Linked DNA regions of Homo sapiens: region 1 is linked to region 2. The links come from fine-mapping of genetic effects on gene expression. A gene starts in region 2. The other region holds a variant in brackets. All regions are shown on one strand. Distances are between the middles of the regions. Region 1 overlaps TPD52L1 (TPD52 like 1). Region 2 holds the start of TPD52L1 (TPD52 like 1).

Region 1 (5,384 bases), 26 kb after region 2:
TCTTATACATGGGAAAACCAGAAAAAGAACTGAGGTTTTCTTACTACAGCCCTGTGATCCTTTCTCTGTATTATCAGCCCTTCACCTTCTGCAGCACATTGCAGTTATTCATCCATATGTCTTATTGAAGAGACTGTTTAGAGGCTTATTTTTAATTAAAAAGTTAACATTTTTAAATTAAAGTTTCAGGTTTAGAAAATTTCCACTTTTAAGTGAAGCTTGCAAGTGTTATACTATTTATAAAATTAACAAACCATTACTTTTAAAGCGACTTTGATAAATATGATATTTAAATAGTATGATATTAACTGATATACACATTCAATTAATATACTCAATTTCATATTTAAGCACTTCAATTTTCTATTTGACTAGCCTTCCTAAGTACTTAAATCTTATAAATTTAAAAGCTAAGTATATAAAAAGTGAATCTAAAAATTCTCTTTAGCTGTTTCAATATTACTTACAAATTTAGTAACATTTCCACTTAAAAATCCCAAGTTTAAGCCATTAACCAAATTAAACATTTAAAATTATAATTATAAGCCTGATAGTCTCTCAATAGACCATATTCTTTCGATCATAATATAAAATAACAAATATTCAAGTGCCTTGTCACAAAACGACTAGTTCTATGATTTTGCTTTATTTATTTCTTCATTCAATAATTATCTAAAATATACCTGTGTGCCAGGCAATACTCTAGGCTCTAGATAAACATTAGCAAACAAAATAAAAATTTCTATTCTTGTGAGGCTCAAATTCTAAGGAAGGGGCAAATAGTAAGCAACATAAATTAGTAAAAAACATAGGCCAGGTGTGGTGGCTCATGCCTGTAATCCCACCACTTTGGGAGGCTGAGGTAGGAGGATCACAAGGTCAGGAGTTCAAGACCAACCTGGCCAATATGGTGAAACCTTGTCTCTACTAAAAATACAAAACTTAGCCAGGCGTGGTGGCACATGCCTGTGGTCCCAGCTACTCAGGAGGCTGAGGCAGGAGAATCGCTTCAACCCGGGAAGTGGAGGTTGTGGTGAGCCAAGATCACACCACTGCACTCCCGCCTGGGCGACAGAGTGAGACTCCATCTAAAAACAAAACAAAACAAAACAAAACAAAACAAAACAAAATATATATATATATATATTTGGGTAAATGTTAAAGAAAAAATCAATGAAGGCAGGATGTGAAATGTGAGGGATGGGTGGAATGGTGGTTGCAGATGATGCTACCTTTTTCTAGGATTAATACTCTGCACAAAGACCTTATTAATTAATTTAGGCTACTTCCCAATAGAGAGGTGTTACATTCTGAGTACACTTGAGGTTGTACAAGGACTGGAGATTTGGCTTGTTATGTTGACTGGATTCCCACTGGTGACTCTGGTGAATACTCTGAACTTATTATTGTTTGTCCACAACTCCCTGACTTCCAAAGGGAAACTTGTAGCCCTACATTATTTGATTGGATTTTGTATGTCTTTGGCTCTTAAAATAATGTAAACAGACTTCCCACCCAAGTGGAACTACCTTTGACACAGCCCTGAAGTCCTTCAGATTCTTCAGACCACTCAGTCTTAACAGACATATCTGGCTGAATTCTGGGCATCCCTCTTGGTTTTGTCCTGAAATGTGGACACAATTTTCCCAGTCACTTTCCTGATTAATTTTAGCTCTCCAAGAGGATGGAGAACTTCAAGAGGACAAATACTATTATGTCTTAGCTCTGTTTTGTTTCTCATTTATTACTGTGTCCTGCAGAACACAATGGGTTTACCCAAGTAGTCCCTCAATACATGTTGTTTAAAGCAGAATAGTGCAGCTCAATGACATAGGGTCATGTCCCACTCAGCCTCTTGATTGCAGGCAACTGCTCAAAAACTGGACTTCCTCAAGTGTGAAAAGGAATTATAAGAATCCCTATGTGTCCCAAAGCACTGTCTAAACTAAGAACCACTCTATGAATGCTAGTTTTCCTTACTATTAATGGTTTAATGCTTATTTTAAAAATCCCTCAAAGCATTTCACAAGCAGATAGTCCCTTTCCCTTTGTATTTAGGCTTCAGGATAATATGAGCGGTACCACTGTTTTATTTTTACAATACTGATCATTTTATCATGCCTGTTGTATATTCAGGTGTAAGTTCTTTTTCACAGGATAGCTTCAATATGTCAGGATGAACTTTCATTTATTTATTTTCATTCAATAGAACTAACTAAATTCTTTTTCTGTTCATTCAGTTATCCCACTCTAAATACCAGGGTTCTCTTTATAGATGGAAATGTGAAGAAGGCAGCTCTTACTTAAAGGGAGTTTTTTTCTGCTCTCATGCACTATACCATTATTTGGGCATTCTAAGGAAAATTCAGGAGTGGTTTTTTAAGAGGGCTGTGTTGCTCTGGGGAGCATCATCTTGACAATCTTGTTAAGGGAGGGTGTTTGAAAGCCACTTCAACTAGAAAACTTACTTTCTACCTGGAGTCTGAGTGCACCTGTATCCATCACTGGACGGAACTCTGATGCTGTCCTGACAATGCCCTTTCATGACCTTAACCTGTGGCTCTGGTCATCACTGTTCCTCAGTTCTCACTCTATCACATGGGTAACTGTTGTACTCAGAGGCTTTGGGAGTCCTCAAATGTCTCACTTTCCCTCTGTCATTTTAAAAACTGCTGCACAGCCCTTGTTTATTTCTATGTAATTATTACTTCATCATATATGATGTTATAAGCCAATTTGATTCTTTTTTGGGGAGAAGGTGGAAG[C/G]GAAGGAAGATAGGAAAAGAAAGTCAGGCTCGTACTATTACATTTTCACAGATTTATTTGAAATTGAGTCTTTCCCAGAATTATCTACCACCTCTTATGGTCAGTTTGACACAGTTAATGCCAAGCACAGTTTATAACTTTTTAAAATTGATCAAAAATTACCCTAACTTTGAAGGTCCTGAAATTACTGACACATATAAGAATTTGCAAATTAAATGTGGCACACAGTTTTTAAATATACATTTACCATACACACACACACATATATTATATATACACACACACACACACACACACACACTCACACACACACAGAGAGGGAGAGCTATTTAGCCTTTTCTTGATAGAGGACGTAAAGGAGAGTGTTAATTACCCCATTCTGGAGAATTCAACTTACAATGGAAAACATGAAGGAGAGCTGTTTAACATCTGCATAAAACACTTGTTTCCTGGTCCTTCTAATGATGCATTCAGGTATGAAAAATGTTTTCTATTTACTTGTTCAGAATTATTTTAAATAAAGGAAGAAAATCACAGCAGCTTCCTGCTTCGGAGGCCCACAGAGTTGCAGCCAAATGACTTGCTATTATCATAGGTCTTTATGTTTGCTGAATGCTTTTCAGTATATCTGATTGTATTCACAGCCCTTTCTGGTGGCATGAAGGAGGCTGGTGTTGCTCTTGTGCAGATTACAAAGCTAGAACCAGAGGAAGGGGAAGAAATGATGGCTTAAGGCATTCTTAGAAGTTGGGTTCGAGCCTACAGTTTGTTTTTCTCTTTAAGATCTGGAAAGGTGAAGAATCTGATGGCAGTGAACCCAGTAATGAATACGATGTTAATATTATAATGTTATTTATTTTATTTACTTATATACTATAGTAATTAATTTGTAGTAATTAAGTAGTAAACCTGATAATATCTGATCTAAATGATTAGCATAAAGAACTATGTCAAGATCAAAATTCAGGATGACTAAGAGGTCAGAACATAAGATACTCACGCAGAAGGATGTAGGAATAACCAAGAGAACTGAATGACCTCTCTAAGAGCACCAAGAAACATTTACGCCAGGATACACAAAGAACTAAGACATTTGAGGGGTTTGGCGATGGTGTCAAGAGGTGCTCGCTGTTTTACATTATTATGTATATGCTGTCCATTTTCTAGAGAGCATAGAGATAGAGGAAACAAAACTGAGACTTAATCAACATCATGGGATTTAAATATCAAACTATGAACAGATAAAGAATGCATGTGTTTTACACGAGTACTGAGGAAAGACCTAAATTGAAGCATGTGTTATTTTACGATAATATTTATTTACTCACAAACATTTGGTAAACATCTTCCTTGTGCTAGGCCATGCATAGATTCTGGGGATACATAGTGTTTTTCTGATGAACTAGAATGGATGCTAAATTGTATCAGCACAGATAACTCTGAATATCTAGGACTTGCCAGTTTACATTGGCGTGGTGCAAGCCATAGATCTTTGGACATATTGTCTTCTCCCAGATCATCAAAGGCCAAGATTTTCCAGGATAACTGGGAGCAAGTCAGTATTAGATTCTGCACTGACTCCACGAACCAAGGTGTTTCAGGGATATTAGGATAATTTTAGGGCAATGGAGTTTGATTTGGAAAGTTGGCTTTGCACAGCCACTCCCCAGATGGCCCTGGTCTAGATCACCCCTTCATGTCAGTTTTTATGGACAAGGCTTCCCCTCGGATACCTCTGGCATTAGGGAGGCACAGATGTACTTCTCTGCAGCTGTACTTTCTAGAAACCAGGTAAGGATAATGACCAAGAGCCACTTGAAAGGCAGGTAGGTATAGATGATGAGTAACTGCCTGGGGCCTTTTAAAAGCTAATATTTATAAACATATATTACTTGGCTGGGCATCATACAAACCAATTTAAACCAATTCTGTGCTTTCTCTAGGGCAGATGTGCAAACATCAGAAGCATGTAGAGCCCAGGGAAAGCATGCAAACACTGATCAAGTGCACAGCGCTGTGTGACTTTTGTCACTTTTCATGATGTATAAGCACAGCTGCCTTTTTTAGGAATCGTGAGCTGGAGTCGTGAGCAAAGTGTTGCAGGAGTAGCATTTTTCAGGAGAGTGAGGTGCTGATGAGTGTTACCCTCTCTGGTAGTCAGGAGAGGATCATTGAGGGGGTGGTTTTTGAGAGTTGGTTTAAGGTAGAAAGGGAGGGAACCTGCCATCTGGAAGTGTGATGATGTTCCAGGCATTGGGTACAGCTTCTTAAAGTGGCCTTTGCTTCTGGAGTAAATGAAAAAAGGGGACATTTAGTTAACTTGACTGAGAGAAGCTGAGAGAGCCAGGCTGTTGAGAGCACTTGATTAGCTGTCAGATACCATTCTCCCTACAGTTTCTTGGCCTCCCAGCCCTGAAGAACTGTCAGTAAATATTGCCATACAGGATCGATTCCATTTAATCTTTTCCAAACCACAACTGTGCAGTAGGTGATGGCATCATCATTTCACAGACGAGTAAACAGAGGCCCAGGGAACTTAAGCAGCTTGTGTGCCAAGTATTTAAAAATTACTGTGTGTTTACATATCACATATGAATTCACACACACATAGATGGTGGG
Region 2 (5,384 bases):
GATCTCCTGACCTCGTGATCCGCCCACCTTGGCCTCTCAAAGTGCTGGGATTACAGGAGTGAGCTATCGCGTTTTTAACAAATTGGAGGTTTGTGGCATCCCCATGTTGAGCAAATCTATTGGTGCCATTTTTCCAATGCCATGTGCTCACTTGATGTCTCTGTGTCACATTTTGGTAATTCTCACAATATTTCAAGCTTTTTCATTATATTATATCTGTTATGGTGATCTGGGATGAGTGATCTTTGATGTTACCATTGTAATTATTTTGGGGAACCCTGATCCATGCCCATATAAGACAGTGAATTGAATCAATAAATCTTGTGTGTGTTCTGACTGCTCCACCAGCCAGCCATTTCCCCATCTCTCTCCCTCTTCTTAGGCCTCTCCATTCTCTGAGACACAACAATATTGTAGTTACGCTCATTAATAACCCTACAATCGCCTCCAAATATTCACATGAAAGGAAGAGTCACATGTCTCTCACCTTAAATCGAAAGCTAGACATGATTAAATTTAGTGAGGAAGGCATGTTGAAAGCTGAGATAGGCCAAAAGCTAGGTCTCTTGTACGAGTTATTCAAGCTGTGAATGCAAAAGAAAACTTCTTGAAGGAGAGTAGAAGTGCTACTCCAGTGAATACACAAACGATAAGGAAGTGAAACAGTTTTCTTGCTGATATGGGGAAAGTTTGAGTGGTCTGGATCAAACCCGATCAAAGCAGTCACAACATTCTCTTAACCACAGCCTAATCCAGGGCAAAGCCCTCACTCTCTTCAATTCTATAAAGCCTGAGAGAGGTGAGGAATCTGTAGAAGAAAAGTTGGAAGCTAGCAGAGACTGGCTCATGAGGCTTAAGGAAAGAAGTCATCTCCATAACATGAATGTAAGGTGAAGCAGCAAGGGCTGATGTCAAAGCTGCAGCAAGTTCTCCAGAAGATCTGGCTAAGATCATTGATGAAGGTAGCTACACGAAACAACACATTTTCAATACGGATGAAACAGCCTTATATTGGAAGAAGATGCTACCAAGGACTTTTACAGCTACAAAGAAGTCAATACCTGGTTTCAAAGCTTCAAAGGACAAACTGACTCTCTTGTTAGGGGCAAAAGTAGCTGGTGACTTTACATTGAAGCCAAAGCTCATTTACCATTCTGAAAATTTTAAAGCCCTTAAGAATTATGCTAAATATATTCCACCTGTGCTCTATAAATGGAACAACAAAACTTGAATGACAGTACATCTGTTTACAGCATGGTTTATTGAATATTTTTAAGCCCACTATTAAGACTTACTGCTCAAAAAATGTTTCTTTCTAAATATTATTGCTTAATATTGGTTAATAATATACTTTGTCACTCAACAGTTGATGGAGATGTACGAAGAGATTAATGTTGTTTTCATGCCTGGCAAAACAACATTCATCTTGTAGCCCATGGATAAAGGAGTAATTTTGACTTTCAAGCCTTATTATTTAAGAAATAAATAGATAGCTGCCATTAATAGTGATTCTTCTGTTGGATGTGGGCAAAGTAAATTGAAAACCTTCTGGAAAAGATTCACCATTCTAGATGCCATTAAGAACATTTATAATTCGTGGGAGGAAGTCAAAACGTCAACATTAACAGGAGTTTGGAAAAAGTTGATTCCAACCCTCCTGAATGACTTTGGGAGTTCAGGACTTCAAAGCAGGAAGTAACTGCAGATATGGTAGAAATAGCAAGAGAACTAGAATTAGAAGTGGAGCCTGAATATGTGAGTAAATTGCTCAATCTCATAAGACTTGAATGGTTGAGGAGTTGCTTCTTATGGACAAGCAAAGAAAATGGTTACTTGAAATGGAATCTACTCCTGGTGAAGTTGTTCACAGCATTGTTGAAATGACAGCAAAAGATTTATAATTATATAAACTTAGTTGATAAAGCAATGGCAGGGTTTGAGATGATTGACTCCAATTTTGAAAAAAGTTATAATGTAGATAAAATGCTATCAACCAGCATTGCATGCTACAGAAAAATCTTTCATAAAAGGAAGAGTCAATTGATGCAGCAAACTTCATTGTTGTCCCATTTTAAGAAATTGACACAGCTATTGCAGCCTTCAGCAATCACTACCAGGATCAATCAGCAGCCATCAACATCCAAGCAATGCCTTCCACCACCAAAAAGATTCCCATTAGGTGAAGATGATCTTTAGCATTTTTTAGAAATAAAATATCTTTTTAAGTTAAGGTAGGTACATTGCTCTTTCTAGACATCGTGCTATTGCATACTTAACAGACTACAGCATAGTGCAAACGTAACTTTTATATGCATTAGGAAACTGAAAAATTCGTGTGACTCGTTTTGTTGCAATACTCGCTTTATTGCGGGGGTCTGGAACCTAACCTGCAATATCTCTGCGTTATGCCCTTATAGCGCCGGGAGTGGGTGCCTTCCGCCGGCTGTACAGAGCGCCGGCAGGTGGCGCCCAGCGGCGAGCTTGTTCCAGCTTGGTTTGGGCCAGGTGGACTGGAAGGGGCGGAGGTAACCAGAAGCGGCTAGTGGCGGCTGCCTGCGTCCCCAACCCCCTCCGCGCAGCGCTCGCGACACGCGTGCCAGGAGTGGGAGCGAGCGGCGGGGCCAGCTGCGTTCTGAGCCTGGGCGCAGCTGCCATCTGCTCTGGGAAGCACCAGGGTGTCCCCGCCGCCCTCAGCTCGAAGTCAGCCACCATGGAGGCGCAGGCACAAGGTGAGTGGTCGCCGATCGCCCCGAGAGTCAGGTCCTGGGGCGCGCATAAAGGCTCTTTTCCTGCACCACCTAACTTCGCTCTCGGACAGAACAGATTGGTGCCGTGTTGCACATCCAGAACTCCACTCCCACCCGCGCCTTTGGTATAATGCCTGCTGCCCAAACTCAGGATTTGCTGTGGGTCTGGGGATCAATAAAGTGACAGGGGATCCGTAAGTGGAGAGGCCCCTCCTCAGGAAATGCGCCCGTGGAATGCTCTACCCTCTTCCGCAGCCAGTCGCCCCTGGCCTTCCCAACCTCGCGGCTGCCCGAAGGACCTGTTGTGCCGGGTCCGGAAAGCGTGTTTCGCTCCCTTTCCCTTGAGGGAGTGGGGAGGGAATGTGACTCTTTTCGCCCAGCGCCGTGGACTCGCGGCTTGTGGCTCCCAAGTTAGGGAGTGAGAGGATCGCCCGCCGAGGGGGTGGCTCCGCAGCCCGGCTGCGCGAGACGCTTCCCGCTCGGGGACCCGCCTTCCGAGGCCAGGTGAACGTTACCGGCCCCCTGACCTCCAGCAGATCCACACGTGAGTCCCGGTTTCCGCGATCGGGGAGCGACCTCTGCCTCCCGTGGCGCGCGGGGCCCCCGGCCGCCCAGCTCCCTGCTCCCGGGGCTGCCTGCTGGAGGAGCCTGCGGTGGCTTCAGGAAGGGCGGCCTCATATCTTGGGGTCACACTTGGAACAGGGTTGGGGAATTCCGATGGAATCGTTCAAGAATGGGGGTAAACGGACCGTGGAAAGGGGCAGAGGTGGGCGGATGTGGAGCGAGAGACAAGTGGGAAGGAAACGGACTCAGTGATCTACCTTGGGGAGCAACGCCCAGAAGGGATGGCTTGCGGAGTTCAGCCTTTAAGGCAATCAAAGCCACCATTCTTTTACACAGTAGGAAACTCTGTGTTGGCTCTTAGTATAGATAAAATCTCATTAAAAAGAAAAAAAAAAAGGTTCATGACCTGATGCGCTCGCCCTCTAGGGGCAGAACGCCCTGAATGAGAGTGGGTTGGCGATTGCGTGGGCCTGGAGTCGCCCAACAGGTTTGCTGCCAGGATTACAATTGTCTGAACAGCACGAACCTTACTCGTTTGTTCCATCCTCCTAAGTCCTGCCCGTAAAGCTGCCGCTTCCCATATTTTTTCCTCTATTATGTAGATAGGAAATGATAATTCAACCAAGGGTGAGGGCAGTTGGTCAAATTCAAAAGCAGAGGTCAGGTTGGAGGCCTTCACGCCAGAACTGAAGCTGGTGGGAGCAGCACCGGAGCTTTCCAACCTGACTTGCATATTAGAATTATTTAGAGAGTCTTCATTACTGGCCTTGGCCAACCCCATCCCAGTCAAACTGGAATCTTTGGAACCTGAACATGGGTATATTTGAAAGCTTATATTAGTGAGGATGGAGAAGAACTATAGCAGATAGGAAACATTCATACAACTTCTGAAGACATCCGAAACTACAGACTGGTAACCACTGGTGTCACTGGTTTGCTTTATTGCTTTGCTTTACTTCCAAGATTTACTTAACAAATATTTCAGTGCTTTCCTTTGCCAAGCACTGTGCTAAGAAGAGCAAAGACAGACTTGGTATCTGCTTCATAAAATTTACAGTAGAGGAAGAGACAAATATTAATTTGATAGCTATTTGAAAAATAACATGTAAAATCACTGCCATGCTGATGCTAAGAAAGGGCCTCATAGTGCAGCGAGAGCCTGAAAAACTATAACCCTAGTATGCAATAATCAGAAGAGCAGATTGTTTATTGTGTCCCTGTCTCTGTTCTTCGTGCTTTGCATGTATTGATGGACTCATTTCCTGTGCGCAGCAGTCCCATGAGGTAGTTCATATTCTCATTCCCATTCTACAGAGAGGAAACAAGCATGGAAGGTATTAGGTTGGTGCAAAAGTAATTGCAATTTTTGCCATGACTTTTTAATAAGTTCCTTGTTTACAGCCAGATAGGTAAAAAGTAGCAAAGTGGATGCTGTGAGGGACCCATTCTCACTCAAAGCCTATGACTTTTGGAGGAAAGGTAAAACTTCAGTCCCCACCTGAATCTCCAGCTGTCCTGTGGTGCTCTTCCTTTCCCCTCATGACTGGATGGAAACTTTAGGTGTAAAGAGGACTAGTAAAAAGGCAAATGGATATGAGAAAAGTGAACAGATTTAATAAATACTTAAGAGGCCAGGTGCAGTGGCTTACACTTGTAATCCCAGCACTTCGGGAGGCCAAGGTAGGAGGATCACTTAGAGCCCAGGAGTTCGAGACCAGCCTGGACAACATAGAGAGACCTCATCTCTACAAAAAATAAACAGAATTAGCTGAGTGTGGTGGCATGTGCCTGTAGGCCTAGCTACTTGGAAGGCTGGAGTGGGAGGATTGCTTGAGGTCAGAAGTTTGTGGCTACAGTGAGCCAAAATCCCAGCATTGCACTCTAGTCTGGACAAGAGTGAGACCTTGTCTCAAAAAAAAAAAAAAAAAGAGAGAGATACAAAAAAGGCCAGCCACACCTGTAATTCCAGCACTTTGGGAGGCTGGAGGAGACAGATTTTTTGAGCCCAGGAGTTTGAGATCAGCCTGGGCAACATGGTGAAACGCTGTCTCCACAAAAAATACAAAAATTAGC

Evidence for each region. PIP is the estimated chance that this variant, and not a neighbour inherited with it, causes the effect. A credible set is the group of variants that fine-mapping cannot tell apart.
Region 1: its variant is the best candidate, but not a certain one, in a credible set for the expression of TPD52L1 in gastroesophageal junction (GTEx, PIP 0.53).

What each region holds. Positions count from the first base shown.
Region 1 is chr6:125,177,530-125,182,913 of GRCh38, forward strand. All of the region lies in intron 1 of TPD52L1 (TPD52 like 1), which reads left to right. Among named protein-coding and RNA genes, the nearest start is that of TPD52L1, 26 kb to the left of the region's middle. The variant C/G (reference allele first, on the strand shown) is at 2,766.
Region 2 is chr6:125,151,242-125,156,625 of GRCh38, forward strand. TPD52L1 (TPD52 like 1) reads left to right here and starts at 2,532. Exons shown (of 7, transcript NM_003287.4): 1 at 2,532-2,729. The coding sequence starts at 2,711. RefSeq lists an enhancer at 3,328-3,915.